3 linked regions of the Homo sapiens genome follow. The protein of the gene in region 3 purifies or fractionates together with the protein of the main gene of each other region. This does not show direct contact. Each region holds a gene or a part of one and is shown on either strand. Other genes may lie near its edges.

Region 1 (7,028 bases), on a different chromosome or scaffold from region 3:
AAAAAAAAAAAAGGGTAAATGGTGATGGAATAAAAATAAGCAGATCAAGGGAAGTGTGCTATCATAAAATAACTGTAGCTTCAACATCTTGAGTACCAGTTTCCTGGCAGATAGTAAACATCCAATCACAAGGGATTTTTCCTGAAGGGTGTAAAGCTGGTTTGAAAATTCTTCAGTCACAGAGCAGCCTACACATGCCAATTAGAAACTGACAGACACTAGATGTGCTTGGAAGATTAAACACTACGTACAGAAACAGCAGTTACTAAGCTCCTCAGTAGTTTCTTGTCTTTTTTAAGTTTCGCTGAATCGACAGTTTGCACAACGTGCTATATTCTGTGGGTCAAAACCAAGTAAATACTGTGTAAAGTTGGCAGATTTTTCCAGCTAAGATCAAGAAAAAACAAATTTTCTGATAAAACAGGTTTAGAGTCAGAAACACTCTCTAAAGTGCAAAACTGATGGTCCACGATCTCAAATAGCTAAAACTCCTGCAGAATGGAAGGGAGAGACGTGAAACAGGGAAATAAATTACAGTCAGTGCTAGTTAATTTAGGAAAAGGGAAAAATAAACCAAACTCAAGTCGGTAAAGTTTATCAAAATATTCAATGATGTAGCTTTCCCCACTCTCTGTCACACACGCTTGCTAACAAGTATATTAAATTAAGGCCAAATTTAACCTGAATGCGTTTTTTTTTTTCTTTTTATTAAGATCTGAGATAGGAACGGTCATACTTAGTACTGAAAGGCAGACAATAAAATGGGCCATGAAAGGGGGGGGAAAGGTACTGTCTATTGTTCGAGGGATTCAACCAGAGATAAAACCTATATACAAGCATGTGTGTAGCTCGAAATAAAAATAAAAGGACTATTTCATGTCATGACTGCTTGTTGGCTTCCTCTTCATATGCATTCCCTGTGCCATTCTGTACATAGGATGAACCAGAACCAAGGCCATACAAATGACCACAATATTTGGCATCATCAATATGATCTTCAAAGAACATCTAAAAAGGAATTTTGAAGAAAAAAAAAAGATAATTTTAACCAAAAGGAACCACTTGTAATTTATATTTCAGCAATGTAAGTACTGACTGTTCACTGACAATAATGATGGCTCTTTTCTATGGTGTTCCTTTGAGGCTACGCATTTCAGTTCAATGAGTAAGACTAATGTCCTCAAAAGTACAGAGCTCAGAAACCAAAGAAAGAGACTACAAAAAAAGTGTATAAATGCATGTCTTTTCCATTTAGACCATTTTTATAAGAATTTTTCATCATGGAAAAATAACTATTCCATTAATTTAACAATACTCAAGAATGAAGAAAGCCAATGATGGTGGGGGAAAAAAAGTTTAGGTTCATAAACTGTCTTAAATCTGTATGCAAGGCTGAGCTGGCTATAAATGATCAAACCATAAAGTCATGGACAGTAAAATCCAAACATTCACACTCTATTACTGTCCTTGAAGAAGCCAAGAAAAATAAAGATAAATTAGTGCCAGAAATCCACCTTTAGTTAAATAAACCATTAAGACATTTTTAAAATGCAAAGCTAAAAAATCCAAAAGGTTGTTTCAATTATCTAATGAAACAATTGGAAGGAGTCCAAAACAAAATATTTACGTGTCATGAATGGATAGTCCAAATCACTTCTGAATCAACAACACTACTTAGCAAAACAGCTTTAATGCTTTCTATTATCAATACATTGCTACAAAAAGTTTTAAATTCTCAGTCTCAATTTAATGTCTAAGAGAAAATATACTCAAATCCACAGCGAATTTTTCCAAAAGGGAAAACTTATAGTCAAGAAAAACCTCACTTGTTTTTTGCACAACCAATTTTCCTGTTTACCTATAGCTAGGTGTATCTGTGCACATCACTTAATTACTTAGGAGTAGATAATGGGTTCATTTAGTTTCATTCTTCCATCCCTAACACTTTATACTCAAGGAACTGATCTCTGCCTTTTGCCGTTTAAGGAGGGTTTTCCTAATATGGTTTCTGATGCAACTACTACGTTGGATTTATTTGATCCCTTCGGAATTCAACCCCCCTTTTAAGACTCAATGCAGTAAAAGAGCCTGAGTTCTTCTCTATAAAATCTTCAAAGCACTGAAGAATGACATGAGCAAATAATATATTTATCACCAGTTTAAACCTTAAAAGGGGTCATGCTAGAATAAACCTAATATAAAGATTCCTTGCCTTGTAGGAGGAGCACCAATGGGAGTCAGAAAAGAACTCTGGAGTTCTCCCACTAGTAATGTGTTTAATCATGGAAGTTATTAGCCTGTTTTCTCACCTGAGAAATAATATGGTTGGACCTACATGACTTCTCAGGTAGTTTATGTTTTAAAATTGTTGGTTCTATGATGAACATGTTCTCCCAGTTCCTTCTGAACTACATTTCAAGATGACTTATTTTTGAATACTTTTAAGTGTGGTGGATGTGACTCATATGGTATCTCTAATTATATCTTTACTTAGTAGGTACTTGTTGCCCAAAATCTTTGGCCACAAGATTTTTAATGTTCTCAACCTAACAACCAACTGAGAAAAAGGCAGTGATGTCTTCATACTTCTCTCATTTTGAAAAAGGCCATTCCTGTGAGCAATGAATCAGATCCTGCCTGATGTTGTGGTCCTATCCGTTCCAGCTCTAACTGTTCTGCCACCTCCTGTAATCCACCCTAGAAAAAATAAAAAATTGCTTGTCAAGAAGAAAAATCTTACAAGGCCTAAATTCACAAATTATAAACTTAGACGCTGACCAAAATAAAAATAAACTTTAGTATGTAAAGGTGAATCTTATAAAGATTGGGGGGAAGAAACAGAGAATGTGAATTACTAATGTATTTGTTGAATGCGGAAAAAGTATCATTTAATAGAAAACAAGATCCTAATTGGGAAAATGTATTTTCATCATGTTTTAGGGCATATGACAGGTAAATACTCTCCTAGATATGGGAAGGAAGCAGACCACATATAGGGTAATATTTATCAAGTACACTCATAGTCTATCAATCCAGTAATAATTATAAAACTGAAAAGCTAGTATAACACCATTTTTTTCATATTTTCTTAAACTTCCCACCATCCATTTGTAGTTTTCACTTAATTTTTACAAAACAAAGCCATTATGAATAATCATTAAGAGTATGCTAAATGCTTCACTATGGTTTTCTTAGTTAAGACGAGTATATGCACACAACTCCTTAGAGTGGTCTGCTATAATCCACCTATGTTAATACTCCTAAGATTAAAAAAGAAAGATGAGAGTGGAAAGAGTGGAAAGAAAGAAAGAGAAAGACAGTAACAGAAGGAAAGAAAGTGGGAGGACAGGCAAGGAGAGTAAAGGGAGGGGAGAATAAGTAGAGCGTGAAGGAAAGAAACACCAACAACAAAACAAAAATTCTTCTCTAACTTGTTAAGGCCTCCACCGGCAAAATGGCCCTTCTGTGCATCACAGCTTGAAACAAGGCTTTGCACAGCAGTTGCTTCTGCGCTAAAAATAGCACGAGGATTAGGTATCGTTAGCAGCTGCTTAGGAGAACAGAACTAGAACTGAATAGAACAGCATGGCTGACTATAGGTCAAAAAGCACCTTTGTCGTTAACCTGAATTTTAACACAGCAGCTTACTCAGGACACATTCAGAATATCTGTACTTAGAAACTTCCCAGTAACAACCACATGATGAGCAATAATTTGGTTCCCTGTTCCTGAAAACTATCATTATACAGACATGTCAATTAAAAAAAAAGTCAGATGAAAACATGTAGGCCTCAGCATGCAGTGCTTTCACAGGGTGGGCTGAATTTCTCAAGCAAGGGATACCCTACTGCAAGTTCACTTCCTGGAAGTCCCCTCAAATTACACAGAAGTCTACTGCTACAAACATAAAATAATCTTTCTTGAAAATTTCTCTAGTCATATGCTGACCATATCATGTATTAAAGGTAAACACTGGCCAAAAGAAAGCTTCTCATCTTCAGTTATCTGTTAAGACCAGCGTGACCAACACGGTAAAACCCCGACTCTACTAAAAATACGAAATTTAGCTGGGTGTGGTGATGGACACCTGTTAATTCCAGCTACACAGGAGGCTGAGGCAGGAGAATCACTTGAACCCGGGAGGCGGAGGTTGCAGTGAGCCGAGACCACGCCACTGCACTCCAGCCTGGGCGACAAGAGCAAGGCTCCGTCTCAAAAACAAAAAAAGAATTAATGTTTAGAATTTAAAAATACATGTTATGCAGCGTCAAAATGTTACTACTATCTAGGCAGGACCTACACATTTCCCATAGTACTTAACTGTAACAAGCTGACATCTTTTGGCCACAGAAAAATCTTTTAGCTATATAGTTTAATCCTAGGAGCATTATCCTATCACTAGAACTGACAAAATAATTTCTAGCCAAGATAAGCCAAAAGGAAAGAAAAACTTTTGCCACACTACTAAATACATCTGCATATCGCTGGCCACCTTAGATTCCACCTTGTAAGAACAGATTCTATGCGTCTTGGGAGAAAGTAACAACTCACAATGGCGTGCATATGAGAGCCTCAATGTCCTCAGATTTGTGTTTTGGTTTGTGATTTTCAATCTGGCAAGCAGTGACAAGAACCGGACCTAAGCCTGAAATGTGTTGAAAATTCTGCCTTCTGCCAAGACATACTGAAGCTCTGAAAAAAGGATTCCCTACAAATTATGTATGCAAGAAAAAAAATCACATGACCAGATAATATAATTGCATTCACTGTAATACTTTAAAATATGGTTTAAAACAACATCCCAGCCTAGGCTCGCATGACAGTCACTTGGTCTGAACAGTGTGCTGCTGTAGATAATGCCATCCGAAGCCTTACTTTGAGATTTTTGCAGCTCTTCATGAGGTACTTCACATCATAAATGACAGGAAAAAACAATCGAAGGATCTCAAAGAAGTCAAGTTCTTCTTCAGGCAAGTTAGAGTTGGTTAGGATTTTGATTAAGTAGCCAAAGTCGTAACCGCTATAAAAGGGTTAAAAGAATAGAGAAGAGGGACATATAAATACTATAAAGATTAAAAAAAAAAGTTTTTCTGATTCAAATTTAAGCAAGTCACACTAGAGCCCTCCCAAAAACATTAAAGAGAAGTGCACACAAGAACAGAGAAAACAAACATATTGAGAACTATGAGAAAATGTCGTCATCTTACAGTATTAAGAACTTTATCACTTTATTATTCAGAGATATCAACACAGACCTACACTACCAAACCAGCCTATGGTCAATAAAATACTATTTTGTTGATATCTGAATAGAGAACACCAAGAAGAGTATCAAGCTGCCCACAGATGTCTCAAAATATTTTTTAAAGTAACTATGGAAATGGAGAAATAAAGATGAATGGAAACTTGGCCAGAAGAGTTAGCAAAGGTAGCAAGAGAACTGGCATTCGGTAGACAAAAGTAATGCAAGTCATCCCACTTTTACATAAGGTGGTCATATACTTTATCCAAAGAATAAGACTGTAACAAGGTATTTTCACTTCTCTTAAATGACTGTGTTAAGTAGTCTCTCCCTTTTCTTCCTTCACAATTCTCTTCCTTTCAGTGTGGCTCCCTAAGAGTCATTATTAATGGAAATGCTGCACATGGAAGAAGTGAAGGGTAGTAAAAAAATAACTACTCTCTTGATCATAAAATGCAAACTCCTACACTCTCAAATCCAGAACTCTTCTCCCTTTGTCCGGCCTTTCGCACAGCTTTCTGTCTCCCTACACTCCCAGGCCACTTAGACACGTCCGTCCCTTGTCTACCTTTCCTTCCAAGGACCTCTAACAGGAAGCCTATATGACATTTGCTCACTAACATTAAAAGATTATATTAGCGCTTAGGATTTATAAACTTCTTAAACTATTCTTCATTACTTGAAATTAGAATATGAGGAAAACAACTAATGATATTTAATGGAATAAAATCTTCTATCTTGATAAATATTCAAATATATCAGTCTAACTTAGATTCTAAACTCCAAGAAGACATGAATGAACCCTGTTTGTTTTTGTTCATCTTAATACCCAGTGCCTAGTGCACTGTATTTTGTCAGAGTATTTTTTAAATGAAAGGGTATGTCATATACAGTAAAAGGGAAGGGCAATACTTTCCAGTTCTTTTGCACCTTCATATCTAGGGAAGAAAAATGACTAAAAAAAAGGTATTTGTATCAAGAGTCTTAAGTTATGTTTCCTAAGGTACAAGTTCAAGTGCAGAAGAGACAAAAAAGATGATAGGTAAGAATGAGTGTGTTCAGTACCTACAACTCAACCATTTCTGGTTAGTACACATCAAAGTTGCCCACATGAACAGTCCTTCACTATAAACATCCCACAGATCAGAGACAGAAACTAAACATGCAGGAGACTCAGATTTAAGATACATGTGTGAAGTGGACCAAGTATGAGAGTATTAACATCTATGTAACACAATGCTTTTTCAAAACCTAACAAAAGCCAATATCATTCTGAAGGTTACTTTTAGTCCCTGGAACGTCAGTTTAGTTTACTTAGATGGGAAAACTCTTTTTCATACCTGGAAGTCTATTTCACAAAATCGGAATAGTTTCCTTACCAGAAACACTCTTAAATAATCTAGTTTCATAACAATAAAGAATTTAGAACCACCACTTATTGAGAATTTACTGTTTATAAAGTATTTTGGTGACCATTAAAACAAGTCTTCAAGCTATTTCTTCTAAGGGATGCCTTATCACTTTAAAAAAAAATTAAAATCCATCTCCACACCCATCCCTAGCATTTTCTTTGCTGTTTTGAGATAGTACTTATCACTATCTAACAAATCACAACGTGAACTCCATTTTTAAAAACTGTCTGCCCACCCCCATGAGAATATAAACTCCATGAGGAAAATAATTTTCATCTGTTTTATTCACACCTTAGTTCCTAGAATCTCATCTCAGTGCCTGCCATATGGTAAATACTCAATAACGTTGTGTAAATGTAAGTGAATGGTTTCCC
Region 2 (7,236 bases), on a different chromosome or scaffold from region 3:
CCTGTCTAAGGAAGAATCAACGTTTCTCCTTTTTCAAAATAAGCTGTCAACAAATTAAAAATGAAGAGACAAAACCAGAAGAGGTTCTTATCAATTTTGTTTAAGAAAGCATAATGTCTGCTGGGCATGGTGGCTCACGCCTGTAATCCCAGCACTTTGGGAGGCCGAGGGGGGTGGATCACCTGAGGTCAGGAGTTCAAGACCAGCCTGGGCAACATAGCGAAACCCCGTCTCTACTAAAAATACAAAAATTAGCTGGGCATGGTGGCATGTGCCAGTTATCCCAGCTACTCGGGAGGCTGAGGCAGAAGAATCGCTTCAGCCCCGGAGGCAGAGGTTGCAGTGAGCCAAGATTGCACCACTGCACTCCAGCCTGCGTGACAGAGTGGGACTCTGTATCAAAAAAAAAAAAAAAAAAAAAAAAAAGAAGAGAGCGCATAATGTCACAAGAACATCAACGTTGGACTAAGACAAACTTTAAATACTACCTTCATCTTGACCGTCCTTGGGTGAACTACTTAAAGCTTTTGAACCTCACTCTACTCATCTGTGAAATGGTAATAGAACTACCTCTTACAACAACAAATTAAGTAATGAATGTATCTAACTGAGCCAAGCATATATAAAGTATGGTACTAGACACATCTTAACAGCTTCTCTTCCTTAAATTTGCAATCTAGAATGGAAATTTCAAAAACTTAAAAGTATTCAAAACTTAATATTTTTTTTTAGAGATGAGGTCTCGCTATGTTACCAGGCTGGTCTACAACTCCTGGGCTCAAGCGATCCTCCACACCTTGGCATCCAGAGTAGTTGGCATTACAGGTGCAAACCACCGTGCCCAGCTTAAGAGCTTATTTTTGAAAATTACCAATAAGGCAGTAGAACGAGTAATATTAAAATATCACTTTTAAGTCCTCTCTGTTTTCTGATCCCATACTGGACACATCCTCCTCCCCCAAAATGAAAATAACCTTTAGATATCTCAAGTGACAAGAACGTTAAAATTTCACTTTACTGGTTACTTGAATTTAACCTAAAGGTTTTGTCAGTTTTTAAATTAGTAAATATAGTGATAAAATTTATATGTAAAATATCTACATAATATTCTTACAAAACATCAAAAATCAAATTAGAATTTTCATTCATTTAACCATAAAACATTTTGCTACTAGGCGGCACAGGCTTTAAGACACACAACCTCCTCATTCCTCTTTATGAAGCTTAGTGCCCTGAGAGTGCCAGATAATAAGGCATCTTGTTATCTCATTTTTAAAAAACTTTTTTATTTTAGGCCTTTACAACACATGGCAGGTCTATATTAACTCCCACACCGAGTAGTCTCTCTTCAGCTAGATTTCTAGCCACTTGAGCTACTAATCATCACTTAAGAATGGTAGAATAAAAACACGACAATCTCTTTTTAAGCTTTTTAGCACGCCTCAATTTTAAATATGTTTGTGCACTCCTGTACACTTTCAGTCACCTAAATAAAATAGGATTATTTATCAAGATTATACATTGAATACTGTACAGCAACTTTTGTGGATACGGGGATCTGCCTACTGGGTCTGTGGGCTATGGAGACGTTGCTCGCCCCCATTTTGTTGTTGTATTATCACTTTCACCGAAGAACACAAGAGAAAAAAAGATTTCCGAAAATAAAGATGAGGCTGACTTCTGACCATTCACATTGGGAATGGGACAGAACCTTCTATTTCGGTGCAAGAACACAGCATATAAAAACATCTAGAGCAGAGGGTCCTAAATGAAAATATCCTCAGACTTACATGAAGATTTCTTAAACACCACAACATACCTAAATGTACCTGTATTTTCCTGCACTGGCTTTGAAATTTAAAAATGAAGCACTCTTTAACGAAGAGTGGACATTTCCAACCCTGCAACTAACTCATTCCTATGTTCTGTCAGTTACTTCTAAGGGTCCTTTCCGAGAAACAGTCAAAATTAGCAGGGTTCTCCCCTACCCCACCACCCTCGGGAATGGGACGTTCCCAAAAGCCAAACGAAAGGGGCGAATTAAGAGAGCAGCAGTTCAATGAATTATTCCATTACTCGTTTTAAATATCTGAGAACTTAAGTCGTTCATCTGGTTCCATTGCTGTCACAGCATCTAATATACAGTAAAAGGAGTTGCACATTTTCCCCTCTTCGGAAGAAGTCCTAGCAGGAAAGTGAGGTGCCACCAAATCGACCCCCGGGGGGGGGCTGCTGCCAACGTGGGCAGAAAACAACTATGGGGAGGGGGTCGTCTTTTTGTGAGCAACTCCGCTGCCTCCTGGGGAACATGGGAGCTGCAAGCTTACTGCTAGAGCCACGAAAGGAAAGAGAGAAGGAGGGAGAGATGCCTCCATGGGGAAAGGGAAAAAAAAGGATAAACCGTAGAGGATCAGAAAAGGAAGCATTTTGCTTTGAGGAGGGGGAAGTAGAAGGGAGAAGTGAAGGTCTGCTTCCTAAGCGATTTTTCCCTTCCCCTCACCCGCCGCTACACTCACAGGCCAGGCCGCCGCGCTGGGCACTGCCCTTGGGCCGCTCCCACGCACGGACGCAAACCCCTTTGCGTCCCTGGTCCCCGGTCCCCGGCCCCGGCGGAGGCCCCGCGGCCCGACAGCAGGAGAGGGTCCTGGGCAGCCGCCGCCCTCCCCCGCGCCCGCGCCCCCGCCCGCCGTCGCCCGGCTCCCGCTTCCTATTTTCGGAGTACACACCCTACAAGGAGCGGAGCGAGCAGGCCTGGCAGAGACCTGCCCCCGCGCGGGGCCTCGGGTGACGGACAGGGGCAGGCACTGGGCGCAGTAAGGATGGGGGAGGAAGGGCAGCCGAGGGCAAGGCCAGCTGCGGGCCAATGCCCTTCCCCCGCGACCAGACTCCGGGCCCACCCGCCCGGGCTGAGCCGGCTCCTGACAGCCCGCGCCGTCGCCCCCGCGACTCTTACCTTCTCTTCATCAGACAACTGCTCCTCCAGATCCGCCATCTTCCTTCTGGCGACAAACCGCGGCGGCGGCGGCGGCAGCGGCCACCTGACTTCCCCGTTTCCGTGCGGTCCTCAGCGCCGCGCGCCCCCGCTAAGGGAGGGGCCCGCCGCTCAGGCCGCCGCGCACGCGCACCCCGGGAGCCCCGCCTCCCTCGACCCGGCCCTCGCGGACTGAGCGCGGCTGTGCGCGTGCGCGGGCGCCTGGTGGCCGGGCGGGGGACCGTGTCTCGCTGGGCCGCCTGCTGCAGGCTTGCTAGCATCTTGAGTGCAGCGTGCTCTCCCCACTGTGACCATATGGGCTCAGTCTGCGATGAGTACATTCTGAGCCCTTCGTTATGTTTCCATCAAGTCCTGAACTCTGCCAGCTAAAATGTGAAAAGGTGTACAAATAGAAGCCTTTTAAACATTGTTTTTTCAAATATTAGAGAAGATAGTTGGCTTTCATTAAAATACACATCACGACCCTCTCCATAATTGAAAGATTGCTCTTGATATACTCCTTTATTCATCCAACAAATATTTTTTGGTTCTTTAACGGGGTGCGGGGCACTGTGTTAGTCTCTGGGGATACAGTGTTGAGGGGGAAAAAAGCAAGCTAGACATACATGTTCATAGCAGCACAATTCGCAATTGCAAAGAGATGGAACCAACCTAAGTGTCCATCAACCAATGAGTGGATAGAGCAAATGTGGGTATATACACCATGGAATACTACTCAGCCATAAAAAGGAACGAAATAATGCCTTTTGCAGCAACTTGGAAGGAGCTGGAGGCCATTATTCTAAGTGAAGTAACTCAGGAATGGGAAACCAAATATTTTATGTTCTCACTTATAAGTGGGAGCTAAGCTATGTGGGTTCAAAGGCATAAGAATGATAAAATGGACTTTGGGGACTGGGGAGGGGATAAATTACTACGTATTGGGTACAGGGTACACTGCTCAGGTGATGGGTGCACTAAAATCTCAGAAGTTACCGCTAAAGGACTTATCCATGTTACCAAAAATCCACCTGTATTCCAAAACTGTTGAAATAAAAAGAGAAACTTCCATACTCAAGAAGCTCATTTTCTACTCATTAAACAAACATATATTGAACAGTTGGGGCCGGGCGCGGTAGCTCAGGCCTGTAATCCCAGCAATTTGGGAGGCCTCCGTGGGCAGATCATCTGAGGTCAGGAGTTCGTGACCAGATTGGCCAACATGAAGAAACCCCGTCTCTACTAAAAATACAAAAATTATCCGGGGCGTGGTGGCGCATACCTGTAATACCAGCTACTCGGGAGGCTGAGGCAGGAGAGTTGCAGAAGTCATTGCAACCCGAGAGGCGGAGGTTGTCCCTGTCCCTGCAACCCGGGAGACGGAGGTTGCAGTCAGCCGAGGTCGCGCCACTGTACTCCAGCCTGGGTGACAGAGCAAGACTCTGTCTCAAAAAGCAAAACAAAAAAAAACAAAAACAGTTGGGGAAGGCACTGTACTATTCCAGGGGAATACAAAGCTATGTTAGACATGGATCCTACCCTCCTGAATAGGTTTGCCATATTAAATATAGGACACTTAATCAAATGTGAATTGCAGATAAGCAATCTTTTAAAAAGTATGTCCCATGAAGCAGTGGAGACATACTTAAACCAAAAAATTACTCATTGTTTTCAAATTTTACTGGACATCCTTTACTTTTATTTGCTAAATCTAGCAACCCTGCTTTTGAAGCTTGAAGTTTATGAGAGATTAAACATGTAATCAAAGCTGCGTAGATATGAATCAATTGGGAATCTTGTGAAAACGAAGTTGTTAATTCAATAGATGTGGCATGAGACTGGAGAATCTGTATTCTCCAGAATACAGCCTGTAGAATAACAGGCTCCCAGCTGATGCCAGTGCTCCTGATCTGGAGACCACATTTTGAGTGGTAAGGCCTTAGGGTTTAAGATAGGCGTTCAGATTCCGTGAGGAACTGTTGAGAACTTTTGAACAGTGACATGACATGATCAGAAATATGTGCAGCAAGATGAATCTGACAGCTGCACATAAATGAAATGTGAGAGTATCAAATAAATGTTCAGAGGCAAGACCTTATTATTAAGTAATTTATTGGGTGTTCATAATGTGCAAATCATTGTTTTTTGTGAATGGACGGCAAACAGAAGCTATGATATTGAAAAACTGATGGTTCATTTGGGGAGAGAAGAGGAAGGAGAAGCATGCTGACACATGCAGAAAAAAGCAGGTGTCCTTTCGAGGATAAACGTTGTGAAGAAGATAAAGAGAATAAACCACATAGTTTAACCAAGGGTAACACTGGATGAAAATTAACATGTTTACTCTTATAGATTACAAATCATTGCTTCATTGATTTCTCACTGCAACCTCAAGTGAGGTTCTTATCAGTACCATTATACCCATTTTACAGAAGAAAAAAATGAGGCTAAATGATTTAAGATTGCATAGATCCCAGCACTTTGGGAGGCAGAGGTGGGCAGATCACCTGAGGTCAGGAGTTTGAGACCAGCCTGGCCAACATGAGGAAACCCTGTCTCTACTAAAAATACAAAAATTAGCTGGGCGTGGTGGCTCACACCTGTAATCCCAGCTACTTGGGAGGCTGAGGCAAGAGAATCACTTGAACCCAGGAGGCGGAGGTTGCCTGGGCAACAAGAGCAAAACTCCATCTAAAAAAAAAAAAAAAAAGAAAGAAAGAAAGAAAGAAAGAAAGAAAGAAAGAAAGAAAGAAAGAAAAAGATTGCATAGCTCCTAAGTGACCGAGCTGGGATTGGAACCTAGGCATCTTATTTTATATTTCATGTTCTTTCCACTGCAAGATTTTTCTTTCTTCCTCTTAAGTCTGGGCACTGTCCACCAAATAAAACTTAATGAAGGCAATTACTATCCCATCCTGTAAATTCAATTCACCACCCTGTGCTGCATCAGCAGTACTTCTGGTTTTGTTTTTTTTCCTGTCTTTTTTCCTGTTTACTCAGCAACACCTATATTAGTATTTTGTATACAGTGGATACTCAGCAAATATTATTGCTTGATTAATTGGCTGCTCTCTTCCTCTAGAAACCTCACCCAAATATGGTAATGTTTTGCAATAATTTGAGTCAGAGTGTGTTTATAATTGTAACCTTAGTGATACAATACATGTGGTTTCCCATAGTGACACAACCCACAATTATGTATAATTTCTGATAATCTTTTCAGTAATCTTCCAATACCACCCTCTTGGTACAATTAAAAGGAATTCTAAAATTTGCGTAGCCTATGTATTCTAGAAAGATTTTAAGCTGTCACACAAATAGGTAAAATATGAAATTATTGTTATATGACTGCAAGGAAAAATGTACTGGTAGTCTTGGATAATCAGTTGTTTTATGAGGAGGAGAAAATAAACAAAATATTTATCCTATACATGATTTTACCTACTAAGAATTTCTACCCTTTTCTTAATTAATTTCCAAACTTACTTCTCTTCTTTTTGTTTTTGGCTGTTTTTTGTTTTTGTTTTTTTTTTTGAGACACAGTCTCGCTCTGTTGCCCAGGCTGGAGTTCTGTGTCATGATCTCGGCTCACTGCAACCTCTGCCTCCCAGGTTCAAGCTATTCTCCTGCCTCAGCCTCCCGAGTAGCTGGGACTACAGGCACCTGCCATCATGCCCAGCTAATTTTTGTATTTTTAGTAGAGATGGAGTTTCACCATGTTGGCCAGGCTGGTCTCGAACTCCTGACCTTGTGGTCCACCCACCTTGGCCTCCCAAAGTGCTGGGATTACAGGTGTGAGCCACCACGCCTGGCCAAACTTACCTTTCTTCTGCTTATTCATGGTCTGATCTTGGTCTTTCCAATTAACATCACCAGAATTTTTCTTCCTTTTATAGTGTTTGTTTTTAAGTTACTTGTATACTTTTACATCGATTTTCCTATGGATATACTCGAATTATTCAACTACGTTTTAAACTTGTCAAGACCAGTGGTTACCCAATTTCACAGAAAAACAATCTTAGGGTGCATCTACTACAAACCTCTCTCTTTACAGATGAGTTGAGCCTTAGATAAATAAATGACATAATAAAAATTGCACATCTAGCTAATATTATTTTAGGATCCAAGTATCCTGATGGTCAGACTCATGTTCTTTTATGTACATATCCATACCAAATAATGTAAAATAAGATGAATAATAGTATTACTGTGTGATCATTAAGTGATTGTACCAGATATAGACTTCTATAGTACCATCTCTGCAC
Region 3 (7,687 bases):
AGGAAAAGAGAGAGAAGAGAAGGAAAAAAAGAGTTGGGCGTTGCCAGTAGGTTTAGCAGAGAGAAGTCTCCTATTTCTAACAGAGGCAGAGTGTGGGACAGGAAGAGAGAACTTGGAGTGGGGGGGGGGGGGTAGGAGGAGGTCAAGGGAGGTTCCCAACAGCCATATCCTCAACTCTTCAAAGATCCTCCCCAACTCTTATCTCCTAACCCCAAAGTCCTAGCGCTTCAGGGAGTCACTCACTGCTCCCTCCTCTGACAAGCTCTCCAAGACACCCCACTTACAGTCCCCACAGTGCCCCTTGGGTAGGACGGCCCCGCTGGAGGTGTCTACTCAAAGCAGAGCTAGAGAGCTGCAAAGTATGAAGTCTGTCTGTGAATCACCTCACGGGAGACGGGAAAAACCCGCTCCTCCCCAACCTGGGCTCCGCCCCACTGCCTGCCTCCCCCTTCCCACTCACCCTCCTTCCCTCTCTCCCTCCCTCCCGCAGCTGGGAGTGGTTCCTTCTCCCCCCTCTCCCTGTTCTCCTTCCACATCCCTGCCCCACTCTCTCCCCTCCCTCAGAACTGTCTCATCCAAACACGGAAAAATAAGGAATAAAAAGTAAACATCTGGAATATATTTTTTTCTTTAATTTCTCAATCGCTTGGCTTCAGCTTGGAATTTGATGAGGTAAAGCCAGGGCCTAGTCCTGTTGCCATAGCAATGGCCTCCCACTGGATTTCCAGGGCCTAGCCAAGAGGAAGGAGGAGCCGGCCCAGGCCTGGGCTGGGAGAACGGGACAGGGCTTGAGAACATCCGGGGGGTGGAGTGACTTGGGGGAAAATTCCCTGGGGCTCCACCTTCCACGACAGTCAGGGTGGAGCAGCCACAGCCTATGTATGAAAAGGGGTTATGTGGGCTTCACTCACCAGCCTAGGGTTGGCTTTAAGGAGTTCTGAGGGGGACAGAAGAAATTAAACCAAGAGGCACAGCCTGGTGGTAGAAGCCTGTCACATGAGCTTCAGGATCTGATATACCAAGATTCAGTGCTGGGTGGGTCTACCACTTTCTAGCCCTGTGACTTCTCCAAGCCTCAGTTTCTCCAACTGAAAAATGGGATTATTGAGACCCTGAGGGGGCTTACATGAAATAGTACATGAAATAGGCTTAGCACAATGCCTAGCACATAATAAGTGTTCAACAAATGTTGCCTATTATTACTGTGATTCCATTCAGTGTCACCAATGAGCTAACATCCCTGATAACCACCTCCTCCTCTTCCCTGACCCCAGGCTACCAGCATTCCCAGACCATTCCTTCACTCTCCCAGGCCCTAGTCCTGTCACCTGTTCTTCAGATACTCCAACCACCTCCTCAGTTCCCATCCTGACTCCTGAAGCACTCTCCCACCCACAAAAACATGGAGACCCTGGGGGATAGGGCCCTGCACCTCTCATGCAAGGCGGAAGTTTCCCTCACCTGGTATGCAGAGCCCTGAGGACAACCCAAACTTCTCCAACCTGCAAGGGGCATTGCCTCACTTAAAGTCACCCACTCCAGCTGGTCTGGGAAGACAGCACCAAATCCTTAAAAGGGACCCCCAGTGCTCATCCTCTGCAAAATCCAACACCCCTCCCCTAACGCTGACCCTGCCCCAGGTGTTTCAAAGATGGGAGAGGGTATGAAGACAGTAGAGAAACCCAGTACTGTCAACCCATTGGTCAGTTAACCACCACGGAAGACTGCCCACTGTGGGTGGGTGAATAACTGTGCAGAGCCAGGCCAAGTGTGGTGGGGGGAGGGGCACATGATAGAAAAAATAAAATTAAAACACAAGATTGTTTCCTTGTCCTTGAACATTATTACTAGGAACATAGTGTGGGTGGTTGGAGATGGAAATTAATTGGCTCAGAACCAAAAAAATCCTTTCACCTGGGGTTCTGATGGGCCCCTCTGCGGTATGAGGGGCTGCAGCAATGAAGGCGGGCTCAGAGTCCCCAGGTGCGGAGGTGGCCACAGCAACTCAGAGACCCCAGCCAGGGGCCCCAGGTGACCAAGGCCACCAAGGCTGTGGCCAGAAGCTGCGATTCGCAGCGGTTCTGAGCACTCCCCACCCTCAAGAGACCAGGGGGTAGAGGGTAGCAGGGTAGAAACGAGCTGACCCCTGGCAGATAAGGCCTCCAGAAGGGCTGGGCAGCTCCAGCCCCGGAGGGGACTCGGCGCAGGCGGGGTCGCCCCTATGGACCCCAGGATCTCCAGCCGGATCCGAGGCTAGAGAGGTCGGCAGGGACAGCACGTAAACTGCTGGAAAGAGGGAGGGCCAACGGGAAGATGGAACAGCCCCGGGCAATGGGCTGTCTGGAGGGGCCCAGTGGGGAGCTCTGGACACAGAAGGGACGGCGGCAGCCGAAGAGGAGGAGGAGGAGGGGGCTGCGGTGGCGGCAGAAGCGGAGGACCTGTGAGCGGGCTGTGAAGCAGCCGGCGAACAGACGGTGGGCTGCAGACGTCGATCAGGTGGGGGCGGACTGGGGTGGCTGGGGGCGTGCCGAAGGAGCCGGGGGAGGGGGCTAGCGCGGCCCGGAGGAAGGGGAGGCAGGGGTCCCTCCAGCGGCTCTGCCCGCCCCCGGCCCCGCCCCAAGCCCTCGCCCCCTCCCCCCTTTCTTCTGGCTCTGCCAGCACGAGCTCCAAGCCATGCGCCCTCCGCCTCCGCGCACACGCGCCACCTTCCCCCGGGCCTCCAGCGTCCCCAGCGCCCTCGGCCCCTGCAAACTTTCCTGGTGACCCCCCGACCACCACCACCTCAACCCGAGGTGTCGGCTGGAAAGCACCCACTCCTTCCATGCCCCTCCCCCGCCCCATCCCGGACCCCGCCCCCTCCTTCGCCCGACCGCCCCCGCGCACTCACGCGCTCGCCCGGGGTCCGGCTCCGCTCGGCTCGGGGCCCCGATGCCAGTCCCCGCCGCCGCCGCCGCTGCTACCGCCGCCGCCGCCGCCGTCACCGCGGGACGAAGCCACTGCGAGCCCCGGCGGGGCCCCGCCCCAACTCCGCCCAGGTCCACGCCCCCAGGGCGCTTCATGAATATGCATGAGCCGGTTGGAACCCGGGAGTGGGAAGCCCGTGCAGAATTCGTCCCACCGTCGGCAAACAGGCGCGGCCCAGCACTCAATTATTCATGAGGCTTGCAGATGAGGGGCCCGCCCCAGTCTCAGACCGGGGCGAAACTGACGCAATTCAGCCGGGAGCGCTCGGGTAAAATGGCCACCGAGACGACTGCCTAGAGAAACTGCCTTGGCGGCCCCTCCCGGGCTCCGCCGCCTGCACAGAGCACAGTATCATCGAGCTACGCCGGCAAGAAGGTAGCCGCCGGCTGACTGAAGCGGCTTCCTGATACAACCACCTGAGTGCTGAGAACGCGCGCAACGTGGCCACCCTCCTGTGTCAATTCAGATTTAGAGCCACCGTGAAGAAGTCTGGCAGCTCTGCATTCCTCATTAGTGACCTTTATCTCCTTTTAGGCCCCTTCTCAGACATGGGTTCCTCCCTACACTGAAGTTTGTATACCCCCTTCTTCCCGTAAGAACAAAAGCTTCACATATAACTCCGTACTTTGTTGCACCACCACCAGGCTGCAACCACCACCACTCTACGCACACGCTCATCCTCCCCGACTCTCCAGGCTCAGGTTTCCACTCCCCCGGCTGCGGGAAGGACAGTCAATCCTGATTTCATTATCGAAAGCCTTGGAAGACCCTTGACTCATAGGTAAGGATGCAGCCAAGAGCTGCCTCCCCCTAGCTTGGTTGGCTAATGGAGTGTAACTGGGAGAAACTTCCTAATCAGATCAGCTCTCATTTCTAGACTCTCAGGTGGCCCATCCGGGCAGAGGCGGGTGAAAACCAATGCTCGTCCAGCCGGGAACAGAACAGGATGTACCTCGAGACTTGCTTCCCGGCTGGCCAGGAAGGCCCTGCCCAGTCTGACCAGAGCAGTAAACACCACCAATAAAAGTGGGAGCAACACACCAAGGCTACAAAGAAAGCATGAGGACATGGTTTCCAAAGTCAGTTCCCTTTATTAAATCATTTTCACAGACCAGAAATACAAAATGAAAGTAGAAATAGGCCCCAGGTAGGAGCTACAGGCCTGGCCTCACATGACCCCTGCTCCAGCAACTTGAACAGGACAAGCAGCAGCTACATCCTTAAGGTCGGGAAAGTAAGATGAGGATTTGGATCCTGCATTGCCCTGCCTCCCACCCTATCTCTCCCCAAATTATAAACAGCCATCCTTGGGAAGCAGCAGAGTTAAGACGTCTCCCCACTGCCCTAGTGACATACACACCAACAGGAGAGCATGTTCAGATGGCACAGAATCCAGGGACTGCATTTCATGAGGAGAAACTGGTACCAAAATATGGGTGGGGAGTCGGGGGGTGTGAGAAGGCAAGCGCAAAGAGAACCTTCCTCCGTTTCTACTCATCGGATCCTGACGCTGAGTCCTCTGAGCTGGGGGGAGTACTGGCTAGTTCTTCTTCTTCAGAGTCCTGAAAACCAAAGGTGTCTTAAGGGAAAAGCTGGAGTCCTGGGTGCCCCACCCACTCTTCAGTGAAGGGCCCGCAATTCCCTACCGCCCCCAACTACAGCACCCCCCTTCAGAACCTCAGAATTCCACCATCCACTCCAACTCATTACTCTTACAGACCAACCCCACACAGACACACATGCCCCTCACCCTGCCCAGCCCACAGGCCCCACATTCCTGCCGCACCTCGCTCCTCCTCCTCTTCTTTTTGCTCTTGTTCTCTCCCGAAGAGCTCTCATCACTAGACACAAACTCTTTGCTCTTGAAGCTCTCGCTTAGCTGCCTTGAGGACGACTTGGATGATGAGCCCCTAGAGGGCGTGGATTTCTTTTCCATCTTTACCTTTACTTTCTTCTTCTTCTTTGACTTGTCCCTGTATTGGCAAGAGGGAAGAGGAGCTGGGCCTTCAGGTCCCCTGTCACCATGACCAAACCTCTCCCAGCTTTAACAAGGCCTTTCCCAATCCCAGCCACACAGCCCATTTCACTCTGAACGTAAATAGCTGCGTCAGCCTGGAGGGCACCAAGGGAGAGTATCATGAGTACACCAGAAGAATCAGAGGGCACAGCCTAAAGCAGCCCAATGTGCAAAACCTACTTGATATTTCTTGCTTTATCTTTTAGAGTTCATGCAAACTGTGCACTGCACTCCATAATAGTATTTTTTTCGTTCCCCCATACCTTCAAATAAAATGGTCCAGGAAAAGAGGCCATATTTCCCCAGTGACTTGAATGCCCTATTGTGTCACCCATACTTGGGCAATGGCCTACCCAGGTTTGAGAAGCACTACCCTACTGCAGTCAGAAGCATCTCTGCTGTCTTTAACTTTCCAATGCTCAACTTCGGCCTGTTAAAAAAAAAAAAGTCTGCCACAAAAATCAGTGACTGGGCCATGTTCTCGACACTCACCTCTTAGAAGACTCGCCTCGGCCCCCTTCATATTCTTTCATGGCTTTTTCATAGTCCCTCCTGGCATCCTCAGCCTTGCGATCCCACTCCTGTCTCACACACAGAAAAAAACAGTTAAGAATAAGACCTCTCCCATCTCCCCTCTCCCCTGATGCAGGCAAAATCGATACAGAAAGTCCCACCAATGGCTCATACTGCTCCCCTATCAGTCATGAGACTCGCCACCCCAAGACAGCACCTCTCGCCAGCCCATGAGAGGCATCACCCCTCCTCTGCTGCTACTCACCTCTTTCTTCTCTTTGGACATTCCCTTCCAGATCTCGCCTGCCTTCTTGGAAAGATCCGTGATGCTGATGCCAGGATGGTCTGACTTGATCTTCTCTCGGCTGGCATTGAGCCACAGCATGTATGCAGACATGGGCCTCTTGGGGGCATTGGGGTCTTTGCCCTTCTTCACCTACATAAGAACCCAAATGCCTTCAGCTATTTCCCACAGAACCCATACATTTTCCCAAATAAATTATTTAGATCACTTAACTTGGAGAAAAAGTGGAGGACTAAATAGCATCAGGCGAGACGAGAGCTCCCTAAGGGCAAGGATAGTATCTCCTTCCCCTCTGCAATTCAGTGCCTAGCTTACCAGGACAGAAGCCCATCTCCTAATTCAGACCTTCCAGAAGCTTATTAATCTCAGGGCTAGTGAGAAAAATTTCCAAGAAGATAACCCTCAAGGCTATAATCACTGGCTATAAAAAACAGCCCCAAGGAAGAACAGGTCCTACTGGTGGTGGACAGGAGAAGGTAAAGAGAATGCCTCCCACGCCCCCCACCCACTGCACCACACACAGGCCCTCCCATCTACAGTCTGCACCTCCACAGGCTTCTTGCGGCTCTTGCGGTCCTTGGCCATCTTGGCCTTTTTGAGCTGTTTCCGCTTCTTCTCATCCCGGTCACTGTCACCCTCATTACTGGAGGAGCTGGCAGAGGCGTTGCTGTCAAACCTGCCAGAGAACAAGCCAGGCTTAGACTTGAGGAGGGAAGACAGGACCCCACGGCCTCAGGACAGGAGGAAGACAAATCCAAAGATACCCACCCAAAAGGGGCAAGGGAGGAAGACCAGAGGACAGTATCCACCACCAATCCCCAACACTGCTTTCTCCCATTCACTGTGGTGGCTTCAGCCATGCCCTCTCCAGACCCAGCCACAGCAATTGGTTACTTGATTGGAATTAATGAATGAAAAACAAATCAATGAGCTTCAGCGGATCTCCCTGGGCATGGCCAAACCAGGTCCTAGTCCATCCCCAGGACACCACTGGCAGAAACACTGCCTCATTCATGCCTGGAACATGGCCCAAATCCACTTCACCACTTCCCTCGGAGTAATCACCTTAATCTACCCTATAGTCTTTTTTGTCTTCTTTTTTTTTCCATGTCAGATGGGTAATGTGTCAACATCGTAACAAGGCTGGAGGGTGGCACATTTCACACACGCACGTAACACCCAACCATTATGTTTATGAACTACAAAAGGATTGGCCCCTACAGTCTTCTGATGAAAAGATAATCAGTTACTACAAAAAGAGGAAAACCAACTTCAGTCCAACCCAGTGCCTACCCCTGTAATTGACAGTCTTGTCTGATATATGTGAAACTCCTCAAACAATGCAACTACCTTACACCTGTATGCTGCTGGACAGTCTTCAAGGCACTTTCACAAGTATTTGCTCATTAAACCTTCATAAACCTTCATAAGCATGTGGCAGGCTGAACTAGAGGACTCCTGTTGGGTGTTTTTTTTGCTGCCCGACATTCTTTTACAATCCTTCTGGATTAAGAGAGCAGAGTCCCAATTTTCTGTTGGGAACCACCTTGCCCCCACTCAGGAAGGGCTTACCCCAACCACAGGCTCTAAGGGTGGGCACTTGGCCTATTTCTGGCCCATCAGACCCCAGCCCATTCTAATAACTCAGGCTAGAAAGGGGCAGGTAACCACTGTGTTCACTATGCTGTTCACCAAAAGAGGCACTTCTGGTGTTGTTTTAAACCAGTAGGATTAAGCCTGCCCTGAGCTTCTGAGAGTCACTGGGCACCCCATGGGGTAAACCTATTTTTAATTAAGGAAATCGGAAGAAATAGATTTGAGCGCCTGAATCCAGTAGTGTCTGAAGCCAATTAAATCCCCAGACTCCGCAGTAATATGAACTTATGAAA

What was found. The genes of interacting proteins can lie anywhere in the genome.
Region 1: the proteins of TNKS1BP1 (region 3) and CNOT7 purify together in Homo sapiens (affinity purification with mass spectrometry; 6 studies listed by BioGRID and IntAct, with this or other methods). This does not show direct contact.
Region 2: the proteins of TNKS1BP1 (region 3) and CAPZA2 purify together in Homo sapiens (affinity purification with mass spectrometry; 6 studies listed by BioGRID and IntAct, with this or other methods). This does not show direct contact.

Annotation. Positions count from the first base shown.
Region 1 is NC_000008.11:17,229,841-17,236,868, forward strand, and holds part of CNOT7 (CCR4-NOT transcription complex subunit 7), read right to left. Parts: intron 5,021-7,028; coding exon 4,876-5,020; intron 2,698-4,875; coding exon 2,587-2,697; coding exon of another isoform or gene 2,581-2,586; exon of another isoform or gene 1,672-2,580; intron 1,009-1,671; coding exon 880-1,008; 3' UTR 337-879; coding exon of another isoform or gene 295-336; 3' UTR 1-294. UniProt on the Homo sapiens protein: Has 3'-5' poly(A) exoribonuclease activity for synthetic poly(A) RNA substrate. Its function seems to be partially redundant with that of CNOT8.
Region 2 is NC_000007.14:116,858,368-116,865,603, reverse strand, and holds the start of CAPZA2 (F-actin-capping protein subunit alpha-2), read right to left. Parts: upstream 3,018-7,236; 5' UTR 2,993-3,017; coding exon 2,954-2,992; intron 1-2,953. UniProt on the Homo sapiens protein: F-actin-capping proteins bind in a Ca(2+)-independent manner to the fast growing ends of actin filaments (barbed end) thereby blocking the exchange of subunits at these ends.
Region 3 is NC_000011.10:57,321,953-57,329,639, forward strand, and holds the start of TNKS1BP1 (182 kDa tankyrase-1-binding protein), read right to left. Parts: upstream 3,001-7,687; 5' UTR 2,888-3,000; intron 377-2,887; exon of another isoform or gene 285-376; intron 1-284. Other genes in the region: FACT complex subunit SSRP1, read right to left, coding at 4,455-4,526, 4,751-4,937, 5,474-5,562, 5,760-5,930, 6,345-6,474.